Regions from separate parts of the Homo sapiens genome. Here regions 1, 3 and 4 are each reported to be linked to region 2. Evidence: microRNA targets listed by miRTarBase, many of them from high-throughput screens and not tested one by one. Region 2 holds a microRNA gene; each other region holds the end of a gene's coding sequence.
Evidence for each region. Region 2 holds the annotated microRNA hsa-miR-181a-5p (AACAUUCAACGCUGUCGGUGAGU, at 1,736-1,758, shown strand). A microRNA usually pairs through its seed, bases 2 to 8, with sites in the 3' UTR of a target mRNA and lowers its output. Matches are read on the target gene's strand: a 7mer-m8 pairs with bases 2 to 8, a 7mer-A1 pairs with bases 2 to 7 and ends in A, and an 8mer does both.

Region 1 (3,175 bases), not on the chromosome of region 2:
AGTGCAGAAGCTTCACTTAAAAAGTAGAGCTGTTAGCTTTCCTAAAGAGATACTAGAAGAAAACCACAGTAGAATTTTATCCTGAGCCATTTCATGATATGACCTGCAGCCTGCACAAGTCAGTAACTATCTTGTCTGAACTGTTTATCTTTCAGGATAGCAGTGGCAGCTCCGAGTTACAAGAAATTATGAGAAGACGACAGGAAAAAATCAGTGCTGCCGCTAGTGATTCAGGAGTGGAATCTTTTGATGAAGGAAGCAGTCACTAATTTGTTTGTTTGTATTTAAACTCCATTGTTTTTGGCATTATTCCAACATGCTTTGTTTTAAGAAGCCTTGAAGGGAATGTCAGATTCATTTTTCTTGATGTAATTTATCACCATAAAAAAAAACCCATGCAAACCTGAGTGAGCACAGGATTTGCTTCTAGGCCCATTATTTTTATTAAAACTGAAAAAATTTAAACTGAATTTTTTGACCTTGGAAAATATTTTTCTTACTTTACCAAGGTGAAGTTTCCTTAATTAGACTAATTATTTTATCCCCATCCCAGGGTATAAACAGGAATTGTTTTGATAGTGGTGGAGTTATTCACTGCAACAAAGCAACAATGTTGTCCATGATTCAAAATCTAAGCAGTTTCGATTTTGCCTGTGAATATGGTGTCTGTCATTCAGGGCATAGCTCACTGTAGGCTAGCCTCTGCTTACTTAAGTCTCTTCTCTGACATACTCAATGGAAGAATATTTAGATTTATTTAAAGTTCTTAATGCCAACAGTTTAAAAAAAAATTAAAACATTTGAATGAACTGTAAAGTACAGCCATACCTTGGACATGCAAATATAAATCTATGGAGCATTCTCAAGAGAGTTTGTCATGGCTCTGTTGATTGCAACTCCTTGTATAGCTTGTATTTTGATTTAGTTTATATTCTGCTTATTATGTATACTGTGTTCTTATATATGAGAAAGCACAAATGCGAAAGAGGTCATGTCTTCTCAAAATCTAGCAAAGGAAGTAGTCTGCATTGGTGTGCATTACAGTATTTTGCTTAATGAAAGCCTCAGTTCTGAATGTTGATATGAGTAGTTAAAAGGAAGTGGGGCCATTTTATGTGTTTATCTGTGTCAAGTATTTCTGGTAATAAGAAGCACTTAATTTACACATATTTTAATCCTGTGAAAGATTCCACATAGAGAAAAGAAAGATACCTAACCTTCAACAAATGTTATTTTTGGAAACACAATTTTTGTCATTAAATGTTATATTATTTCACATATATAAAACAGATGTTATGTAAGAATGTTGTATATTTTAACATAAATCATTTAGAGAAATTATCTAGATTCATTAATTTTCATAGTGCCTTTTTCACATGAGTCAGCTGGAAAGTCTGCAATAAACAGTATTTGCTGTCTGTTAATAAATGGTTTCTGTCTCATTAGCAAAAAGGATCTGTGCTAGATCGGCTGAGGATTCGAGTTGAATGCAATGGGAAAAAGTAGAGATCCACATTTTAAAAAAACTATATATTATTCTATTTCTGAGTGGGTAGAGAAACTCTAGAATACTTTTTTCGGTTGTTTTTCTTCTTTTCGCCTCTTGTTTCATCATCTTTTCCTTCTACCATCTAGTCATATTTGGTAATGGTAATGGAACTAATTTACACTGCGCTTACGATTGCTAAATGCTTCCATATAAATGCTTTCCTGGATATTTACAACAACTCTATATGAATTATTACAGATGAGGAGATTTAGCTTCCTAGAAGCTAATTTTCCCCAGATCCTGAAGGATGTGGGAGTTTCTCATCTTCTATCTCTCGGTCTCTCTATAACACTGCCCTTTGGATAAAGTGGAACAAACATGAGCATGATAAAGGTGAATTAGTTTAGATCTTTTACATTTCATAAGGACTGATACATATGTATAATTTAGCCTTTATTGAAAGGGATAAGATGAAAGAAAATAAGATCCAAAAGTTAAGATAACCTGCGTGTAAAATAGCAGACGGATATGAAAAGAATTGGTGTAATTTACATCTTTATGCTATAAGATGCCAAAGGAATGTATCACAGAGGTAGTAATTGCAGAAAGCAGTCACATCAGCTAAGGATGTGGGGACAAAGAGAAGAGGTTCCTGGAATTTAGAATCTTGAGGGAGCAGCACCACAGAATTTGGATCCAGACATCTGAGGGGTTTGGTCACTGGTATCTGAGGATTTGAGGAAAGACCCCACAAAGCTAACAGGGGGACACAGCCTAATCAGTGTTTTTGCCTCAGGTATTCAGAAAAGATTTCAGGAATTGAACAACAGGTCAGAAAATCCATGGCTCTGGGACTTAGACTTTGGAGAAGAGCATGGCAGGTAGCTGGTGCTTGAATCTCTAAGAGGGCACAATGAGGATGCCTCTGGGAGCCTAGGGAATAGAAAACTGGTAAATTGAGCCAACTACTGCTGCTGGGAATCATTTGCTACTTACTGAGTGAAGAACCACTACTGGGGTTGTGTTGGTAGCAACAGAAAGTAAAACAGGAGGGAGAAGCCCCTTGTTCCCTCTCTAGCCTTCTATCTCCCTGTAGCACATGCTTTCGGCACAGTCTATTGAGCATGCACCTGACAAAGCCCCAAATCTCAAAGATGAGAATTAAGGGATGGATTTGAAACTGAGAGAATAACTCATAACCCATTCCAATCTCTAGTACTTAGCCTCTACACTTGCTCTTCTGTACATATCTGAAATTTCATACAACAATAATTTTTTAAATGTGGGCCAGGAGCAGTGGCTCATGCCTATAATCCCAGTACTTTGGGAGGCCAAGATGGGAGAATTGCTTGAGCCCAGGAGTTCAAGACCAGCCTGGGCAACAAAGTGACACCTCATCTCTACAAAAAAAAGTAGCCAGGTGTGGTGGCATTCACACACAGTCTGTGTTACTTTGGAGTCCAAGGTGAAAGTGTCGCTTGAGCCAGGAGTTCAAGGTTGCAGTGAGCCATGAGTGCACCACTGAACACCAGCCTGGGTGATGGAGTGAGATCCTATCTCTAAAAAAATTGATTAAAAAAATTTAAAAGATAGAAAAAGCTTATGATTTTACCTAACAAGGTGCAATCATCTTTCTCTGTTATTTTAGTAGTATTTAATGTAGAGTACTTAATGTAAAGAATTGTT
Region 2 (3,175 bases):
TCAATTATAGTTAAGATTTTTATTCTAAGAATGTAACAACTTTAGGATTAAGTTAATTGTATTCTTCCAAAGACTTCTAGGAGAATATTTTGGAAAACAAAAGATAACATAGTTATGCCTTTTAATTATTTGTAACTGACCTAGAGCTTTGCTTACTGGTAGGCCAAATGCATTTTGTGTTAAGGGAAAATACAGAGCATGGAGTCTTTTATCACAACATCCCTATTATACAAACGTTAGCAGATGTAGCAAGAGATGAATAGGCATGATTGAAAACAGTTGTATATTGACCTGACACTAATACCACAATAGGCAGGCAACAGAACAGGAGTGATATGCTTTCAGTCGTAATTGATAATGCAAACAAATGAATCCTCAGTCTCATGATAATATTCTTTCCAGCAGCAACACAGAAATGCCTACTGATAAAGCATTCTTCTAGGGTTTTATTCTGTGGGAGAAATTTGCTTCTTTCAAAAGAATTAAACAATGCAAAATTCAGATACATCACTGTTTCATATTCTGTGCCTATTTGTCACTTTAAAATTTACTTCCAGTTGATCTCTAGTCCCTGTTTCTCTCAAAAAAAATCTGTTGAAGTTTTCATGTAAATAGTTTGTCTAAAAGGTTAAACAATTATTGGCTTTAAAATAATTCTAAGTGACTGAAATGTAAGAATGTGTAAAAATTTGGGATACATATTTCACTAACATTTCGAGAGTAATTGCCTTGACTTGAATAGACCATTATCACCTTCAAAGTAGCATTCCAAATTATTGTGGGTTGTCCCTCCTACAGATAATTACTCTATAACCATATTAGATGCAACTTAAATGTGTGAAATAATGACTTTCTATTCTGGTTTAGATACATCCAAGGTGACTTTTGTTTTAATTGATGGTAGAAAATTATTGAAAATGGCTCTAAAAATAAATTCAGTAGAGTTCATAATAATTTTAAAATAAGCATTAATGATAAAACAGTCTTAGAAAATAAGACTATGAAAAGAATCCCTCACCCATCTACCCATAAAGAGATGTTAGATGTTAGATGTTATTTAAAATAATAGGAAATGAACGGTTTTGTAGCATACATAGATTGTATTTACCTTTCACTGTATTCATGAACTCTTTGTGCCATAAACTAAGAAAAATGTATTGAGCTGGTTTCTTCACTTATAATTTGTTCAGCATTTTCTAAATAAGATTGTTCTTAGGAAGTTATACTAATTTTAAAACCTTATTTTAGAATAAAATATAGTAAATATATAATGTAAATATAAATGATATCATCAATGCCAATTTGAGGAAATCTAAGGTAATTCTGTTTAATTTCTGTATAAGCTATATACATAATGCTTGCTTACTATAAGCGTAACAATATTTAAATTATAAGATATTGTTTGGATTTTATACCACAAAGTACTTTGAATAACAAATTGTCCCTGTCTTTAACAGTGAGATAATTCCATCTCTGGAACTAGCCCAATATCGGCCATGTTTTTGCTTAATGAAACCGATCCTTTTCTCTCATACAATGTGATGTGGAGGTTTGCCAAACTCTTTGTTGGAAGAATCATGCTTCTTATTTGTCTTCTTTTGTAGTCTTTTGAAATGGCATAAAAATGCATAAAATATATGACTAAAGGTACTGTTGTTTCTGTCTCCCATCCCCTTCAGATACTTACAGATACTGTAAAGTGAGTAGAATTCTGAGTTTTGAGGTTGCTTCAGTGAACATTCAACGCTGTCGGTGAGTTTGGAATTAAAATCAAAACCATCGACCGTTGATTGTACCCTATGGCTAACCATCATCTACTCCATGGTGCTCAGAATTCGCTGAAGACAGGAAACCAAAGGTGGACACACCAGGACTTTCTCTTCCCTGTGCAGAGATTATTTTTTAAAAGGTCACAATCAACATTCATTGCTGTCGGTGGGTTGAACTGTGTGGACAAGCTCACTGAACAATGAATGCAACTGTGGCCCCGCTTTTTGCTGTCACAATCAACAGATATTCCATCTTTGAAAGATGTGTTCAAAATAGTACTATTGTTCTTTAAGTTTTCCAATTCGTCAGCATCTTCTGGTTTATTTATTCAATTTATATCATGTGATGAGATTTCAATGAAAAAGACTCTGGTTTAAACAAGAATAATGCTTCTCTATCTTTTGTATGCTATAAACAGAGCATGTTTTAGAAAAGGCAAAACTATTTTGTCCATCAAACGTACAGTATCATCATCTAGGTTAGCTCACCTTCCTACTGTTGTAGTGTGAGTGAAAAAAAGACATAAAGTAGGACCTCAGCACCCATGCCATTGACAATAACACACTTACAAATATGTGTTCTTTACAACTTTTGTTAGATGTTCTGGTCAAAGTGGGATAGAAACACCAGATAATTTTAGCTTTCTGCTTCTCTGGGTGAGGATTTGCTCATATAATTCTGCCTCTTGCTATGTAACATGCTAAATACGAAGAAAATAATATATACATAACTATATAACTATCAGAACACTCATGACAGTCATATAGTAGATTGATTTTCCCAATTCAATTTCCACTTTAAAACTTTACCCACTTTCTATGTGCATGAACTGCGTGGTTAGACTTACAGTCATGGCCCATTAATTGCCTCATGTTTACTCATCTGACTTTGCAAGTAAAAGCCTATGCATATCATGGTTTTTCTTAAGTGGTTTGCCTCTGCATTTTTATATAGGACATCTGTCATTAAATTTGATCACAGCAGTTTTAAGTTTACCATTTGTAATGATAATAATTATATAGCAAAATAAAATGCTTTCTCAAGTGTCTATGTTTGGAGTACCTGGATGGCTTCAATGTTCATTTTTTTTTAATGGTCAAATAAATTATCCTTTCTTTTCCTTGATCTTTTAAATCCCATTTGCCTTTAACTCCCATTACAGAAACCCATTGCTGGGACCCGGCTCTTGACCTCATCATAACCTTAAAATATTTTACCACATTCGATATCTAATATCCCACTCTGTCTATCACTTCTTACCATTCTAGTTTCTCATTCTCTTATCTCCAAGGCAACTGTCCTTTCAATATCAGTGTTGCTGAAAAATAAAATCACATCATCATATGGACACATTAATACACATACTCAGGGGCCTCCAAGTGCCTCAGTCCCTCAACTCTGACCC
Region 3 (3,175 bases), not on the chromosome of region 2:
TGTGTCCCAGCAATTACTGTTCTAGGTTAGATGGTAGAAGTTCTTTCTGCCTAAAAACCTGCCTAGAGTCAAAAACAATATTGACTCATGGGGCCCCTGAACACTCCTAATACCAAATTTTTCATTTTTGCTGATTACGTTAATAGGCCATATTTACCTGTTAAGGTTCTTTCAAATAACCTGAGAATCATGTCATATGATTCAGAAGACCTGGAATGAGGTCCCAGCTCACTTAATGGTGAGTGACTTTCATGAAACTCAATTCTATAATATGGAGACAGCACTATAGCACTAGTCAGGGTTCTCTGTGTGTTCAAACACCTACGTAAATAGCACATCAGTGCTACTGTAGTCCAAGACACCTCTGGTCAGATGCCTACAATGAAAGGGGCTGGTGATATTTCTGTCGCAGGGCCACAAATGAGAGAATGGTACACACTGGCATTTAGAAAAGTTATACCCTCCCTCCCCGGCCTTTTTGTGTGTGTGTGTGTGTGTGTGTGTGTGTGTGTGTGTGTGTGTGTGCGCGCGCGCGCGCGCGCTGTGGGGGGAGACAGTCTATCACCCAGGCTGGAACTCAGTGGTGCAATGATACCTCACTGTAGCCTCCAACTCCTGGGCTTAAGTGATCCTCCCATCTTCGCCTCCCAAGTAGGTGGGAATACAGGTGTTTGCCACCACACCCAGCTAATTTTTGTATTTTTAAAATTTTTTGTAGAGACAGGGTCTCAAACTCCTGTCTTCCAGTAATCCTCGGCCCCAAAGTGTTGGAATGACAGGGGTGAGCTACCACACGTGGCCAGTTACCCACCTTTAACCGATTTCTCTCCCTTCTAGGACTTCTCATCTTATTTATCAGATGGACTACATTTGTCTCCAAAGGGGAATGAATTTTTGTTCTCGCATCTCTGGCCTTTGATAGAGAAAAAGGTCTCTTCTCTACCTTTGCTGCTTCCTTACTGGCGGGATGTAGCAGAAGCAAAACCTGAATTAAGTCTGCTGGGAGATGGAGACCATTAGCCAATCACAGGAGACCCAAATCTGCTTGTTATCTACAGAACTCAAAGTTGTCAATACGTAGAGGTACGCTTTTTTCCTCAGGCTTAAACCTTTGCCACTGATATTAATAATAAAAGTATTAGATGATTTTTCAGGGAAGTTTTATACTTAGGTCCATTGTGTTTCGACAGTATTTATTAATGCAGATATCAGTGCTACAGCTATAAAATATACCCTGAGCAGCTTGTTAATTCTATAAATGACAAAGACTATGTTTTTAAAAAGTCACAATTTTATAAAAATGGTTTTTCTTACATTCTTTTGAGAACTGTTTCACTCATACATACACCCACACACCCCACTCAACCTTGTATCAAATTCCAAAAGTGTAACTAAAGTATAAGAATATCATGACTAGTTAAAAGATAGCAAATACCATAAGGTACAAGTTCAAGTATTAGTATAACAAGTATCTGAGTAACAAATGTCCTTGGAAATGGGGGGTAGGAGGAGATATGATTAGTCACAGGTTTGGTTAACTGCCCTCAAAATTTACAAGTTAAAATGTTTTGGCTGGTGAGCACATTTCAGTTCTTAGGGGAAAAAAAGCTTTTAATGGCAATTTATAGAAATCAGAATCCAGGCTAATGATTTTTATCCTTCACACAGTAAATGCAGCCCATCCAGAATCCTGGAGCAATAAAGTAAGAAGTAATTCAAATATCTGCTTGTGGGTCAATAAAAAGGGTTTCTGAAGTATCAAGTCTTGTGGGGACAGCCCCCAACCCTAAGGGCAGGTAGTATTCTATCTCCTGGCTGGCTCATCACATTCAAAACAACCTGTTTTTTTTGTTGTTGTTGTTGTTAAGAAATATCTCACCCTCTTATTCAATAGTGTTTGAAAACAGGCAATCTTTGTATTTTAAATATTCTAGGTTTGTAGATAGTGAATTTTTTTTTTTTTTTTTTTTTTTTGAGGCAGAGTCTCACTCTGTCACCCAGGCTGGAGTGTAGTGGCGCAACCTCAGCCTCTCCAAGTGCTGGGATTACAGGCATGAGCCACCACTCCCAGCCAATAGTGAATTTTCTAAGAGCATGTATCCCTATCAGTAACAGGGATACATGAAGATACTTATAAAATACAGAAAAACTGCCCAGCAAATCAGGGCCCTAAACAGTTGGTAGATTCCATAAATTCAACTGGCTACCATGTATAGCCCTCACTGTAAGGTAGGTGGTTAGGTTTCTAGAGAGCATTAGTCTTAGAATTATGAAGAGCCATATTAACCCAAATGATTTCTAAATTTAGATATATATTTTCCCTGCTACATAAAAACTCTGGGTAATAACTAGAAATAGACCCACAATTTAGAGACAATGTATACTAGATTTATCTCCTTTGTTTTTAGTTGAAGGCAAAAAAAAAAAAAAAAAAAAAAAACTATTCCAGTTGTCATCACAAATAAATGCCAAATGCCTCATATTCAGCGGTTCATTACAGTGTATAAAAAAAAACTGATCATTTCCCTAGTCAGTGCTGTTATCAATATAAAAGATTAATTTACAAAAACGTAAATATTCATAACCCAATCCAGCTGTATTTTCTGCTTTTGCACCACAGGTCAAAAGATATTTTAAAAACTAAAACCTGAAAGCCTCAAAATAAGCTAGATTCACCTTCACCTTACCTTTTCAAAAGGAGAAGGGCCAAACCACACAAGAACTGTTTACCTGCAGGAAGTTCAAACACATGACCAGCATCTGCTAAGTCACTTCCCAGTCTTCACAAAATACAAGCTGTGATTGATTTGTAGGTCAAATCTATAAAAATATTTTGCACACTTAAGTCAGAAGAGCTGAGAACTAAATTAGCACTCTGTTTCTTTGCTGTCAACACGATTCTGACGCTGCAGTTTAAAGGAGGCAGCCTTTTCACTTCTGGTGACCGGATGGTCCGTGAGATCCTCAAATGACTTGGCAGCTGTGCTGCTATTTGGGAAGGGGTCCTTCTCAAACCCATCCTCGTCCATATGTGAGTCTGTGCTGGGGTCTTCCTGGATGGTGTCCATTCTCTGGTGGTCCAGTTTTGGAGCTGCTGGCGCCGAAGGGATCACAGGGGCAGGCTGCAGGCGGCCTGGAGTCTGGGGCGCAGGAAAGGGTTTGATAATGCGAACCG
Region 4 (3,156 bases), not on the chromosome of region 2:
CCCCACCCTCTTCTACTCTGTTAGTGGAGCCTGCGGTTTTTATGGGCACAGGATGAGGGCGGGGCAGGCCATGAGTGGTTTTGAAAAAGGCAACATTTGAACTGGAAAAGAAGGATGTGAAGTTATCACTTTGGGCCAATCTGAAAAGTTACGTACTGCACAATTCCAACTCTATGACATTCTGAAAAAGGCGAAACTATGGAGACAGTAAAAAGATGAGTGGTTGTCGGGCTGGGGAGAGGGAGGGAGGAATAGTGGGAGGACCGATGATCTGTGGACTTTGGGTGATAATGAAGTGGCAATGCAGGTTCATGAATTCTAACAAATGTATTACTCTGGTGGAGTATGTTGATGATGGTGGAAGCTATGCATATGTAGTGGCCGCAGGAATATAGGATGTCTTTGAACCTTCCACACTATTTTGCTGTGAACCTAAAACTGCTCTGAAACATGGATTTTTTGTTTTGAGACAGCGTCTGACTCTGTCACCCAGGCTAGAGTGCAGTGGCACAATCTCAGCTCACTGCAACCTCCTTCTGGGCTAAAATGATTCTCCTGCCTCAGCCTCCTGGGTAGCAGGGACTATAGGCATAAGCCACCATGCCCAGCTAAGTTTTGTCTTTTTTGTAGAGGCGGGGTTTCACCAGGTTACCCAGGCTGGTCTTGAACTCCTGAGCTCAAGCAATCCACTCACCTCAGCCTCTCAAAGTGCTGAGATTACAGCTCTGAGCCACTGCACCAGGTGAACACGGATATTTTAAAAGAGTAATAAAACATTTTCAATTGGTCAGAGTTTTCCAATCTGAGAAGTCAACATTATTTAGCTGAACTACCACTCTCCAAAACCTCTTACACTAATAGGATTTCTCTCTACTGCAAAACCTTACTTAAGCAATCCCTGAGATAACAGCAAAGGGCTTTCCATGTTTCACAGACTGTGTGGTCTCATTGCAAGTTACTTCCTGCTGGGTTGTGAAGAGATTCTGACAGCTTTCCCATATTTCTTACATTCACATGGCTATGAACTGTGATACAGTAAGATATGAGAAGCAAATGAAGTACTTCCTGCATCCTTTTTATAATCACAGGGTTTTACCCCAGTGTGAATTCTCACAAAGATATTAAGGCTTGAGCAATGAAATAAGGTGACACCATATCCCTGGGATACACAGGTTCTTCCTCCAATGTGAGATTTCATGTTAACATTATGGCATGTGAGATATTTAAAGGTTGCCATACATTCCCCTACATTCCCAGGACATTTGCAGTCTAATTTTATTTTATTTTTTTTGAGACAGAGTCTTGCTTTGTCACCCAGGATGGAGTGTAGGGGTCTTGGCTCACTTGCAGTCTAATTTTAGATATGTAAAATGAGCCTCGTGGAATTAGTAAAAGCTTTCCCACGTGCCTTACAGCAGAAGTGTTCTCTACACTGTGAATTTTTATTTCTCATGTAAGGTATAAACATTTAATGAAATCTCTCCACATTACTAATAATGGAGCCTCAGTCCACTCTAAGTCACTAAATGTTGGGTGAAGTCACATTTATGACTTTCATAGTAAAAGAAACTTTCTCTTCTTGATGGTCTTTGATTTTCACAGGGCCTATCACCACAAGAGTTGGAAGTGAGTATTAAGATCTGATGAGCACTTACAGACTTCTTCACATGTCCTACATTCATAGAACGTCTCTCCTGTGATTGCTTTTGTGTTTACACTAACACTAATGATAGCTAATGAACGGAAAAAATAATCACAAAAAAATTTTATTATGTTTGAAGAAAGCTTAAAAATTTGTGTTGGTCTGCATTCAAAGCCATCCTGGCCTGCGGGTTGGACAAGCTTGATCTAAAGCTTTTCCCAAGTTCCTCACAGTATTAGTTTCCTAGGGTTGCTGTACAAAATAACAGACTGAATGATTTAACCAAGAGAAATTTATTGCCTCACAGTTCTGGAGCCTGGAAGTGCAATATCAAGGTGGAGACAGGGTTGGTTTCCTCTGGAGGCCATAATGAAAGCATCTGTTCCAGGTCTCTGTCCTTGGCTTGTAGATGGCCATCTTCTGGTGGATCCACACAGTCTTCTCCATGTGTATCCTTCCTTCAGTTTCCCTTATAGGGACACCAGTGATGTCAGATTAGGGATCGAACCCAACAACCTCATTTGAAGTTACTCACCTGTTTGAAAACCCTATGTCCAAATACAGTTATAGTGTAAGGAACTAGGACTTAGGGCTTACAAATATGGAGTGGGGCATCATCCAGACCATACCATTTAAATTGCAGGGTTTCTCTCCAATGTGAGTTCACATACACACATTAAGGTTTGTGGGATTCAGAAAGGTATTCCCAGATTCTCTACATTCATACAGTTTCTCTCCAGTGAGATTTCTGATGTGTTTGGTAAGGCTTGAGAATTCAGCAAAGTCATTTCCACATTCCCTGATGCAGGGTCTTCTCCACTGTGAATTCATATGTGTTCATTAAGACCTGAGATACAAAGTTGCTTCCACATTTTTACATTCATAGGGTTTCTCCCCAGTGAGTTTTCATGTCTTCAGAGAGAACAGGGACACCTTTAGGTTTTCCCACATTCCTTATGCTGACAGTCTCTCATCCGCATGCCTTCTTTCATGATTTCGAAAGGAACTGGAAGAACTGAAGGCTTTCCCGCACTCCTTACATTCATAGGGTTTCTCTCCAGTGTGAGTTCGTTCATGTAACTGAAACGAATTGGAGTAACTGAAGGATTTCCCACACTGTTTACATTTGTAGGGTTTTTCTCCAGTGTGGATCCGCATGTGAAGGTTAACACACGTGGGAAACTTAAAAGCTTTGCCACATTCCATACACGTGAATGGTTTTTTGGCGCTGTGGGTCCGCATGTGATTATTAAGACTGGAGGAATGCGTAAATGCTTTACCACATTCCAGGCACTCAAAGGGCTTCTCTCCAGTGTGAATTCTCAAATGTCCACTAAGATTTGAAGAAATAGCAAAGGCTTTCCCACATTTGACACATTCAAAAGGCTTCTCTCCAGTGTGAGTTCTTGTATGTTCACTAAGGCGAGAGGATCTGGCAAAGGCCTTTCCACATTCCTTACATTCATAGGGCCTCTCTCCACTGTGAGTTCGTGCATGCTTAGTAAGGTCTGAGT

Region 1: the mRNA of EPS8 is a reported target of hsa-miR-181a-5p. Seed matches in the 3' UTR shown: 7mer-m8 at 1,072-1,078.
Region 3: miRTarBase lists ADAM17 as a target of hsa-miR-181a-5p. Seed matches in the 3' UTR shown: 7mer-m8 at 1,826-1,832 and 7mer-A1 at 1,312-1,318.
Region 4: miRTarBase lists ZNF266 as a target of hsa-miR-181a-5p. Seed matches in the 3' UTR shown: 8mer at 2,518-2,525 and 8mer at 2,359-2,366.

Annotation. Positions count from the first base shown.
Region 1 is chr12:15,618,411-15,621,585 of GRCh38, reverse strand. EPS8 (EGFR pathway substrate 8, signaling adaptor) reads left to right here. Exons shown (of 21, transcript NM_004447.6): 21 at 156-1,452. The coding sequence ends at 269. Among named protein-coding and RNA genes, the nearest start is that of EPS8, 170 kb to the left of the region's middle.
Region 2 is chr1:198,857,691-198,860,865 of GRCh38, reverse strand. It overlaps MIR181A1 (microRNA 181a-1), which reads left to right and starts at 1,713; the gene lies at 1,713-1,822. The region is part of intron 2 of MIR181A1HG (MIR181A1 host gene); the gene reads left to right. It overlaps MIR181B1 (microRNA 181b-1), which reads left to right and starts at 1,884; the gene lies at 1,884-1,993.
Region 3 is chr2:9,487,310-9,490,484 of GRCh38, forward strand. It overlaps ADAM17 (ADAM metallopeptidase domain 17), which reads right to left. Exons shown (of 19, transcript NM_003183.6): 19 at 1,177-3,175. The coding sequence ends at 2,868. IAH1 (isoamyl acetate hydrolyzing esterase 1 (putative)) reads left to right here. Exons shown (of 6, transcript NM_001039613.3): 6 at 838-2,433. The coding sequence ends at 1,020. Among named protein-coding and RNA genes, the nearest start is that of IAH1, 14 kb to the left of the region's middle.
Region 4 is chr19:9,410,679-9,413,834 of GRCh38, forward strand. It overlaps ZNF266 (zinc finger protein 266), which reads right to left. Exons shown (of 11, transcript NM_001370374.1): 11 at 1,751-3,156. The coding sequence ends at 2,597. Among named protein-coding and RNA genes, the nearest start is that of ZNF266, 23 kb to the right of the region's middle.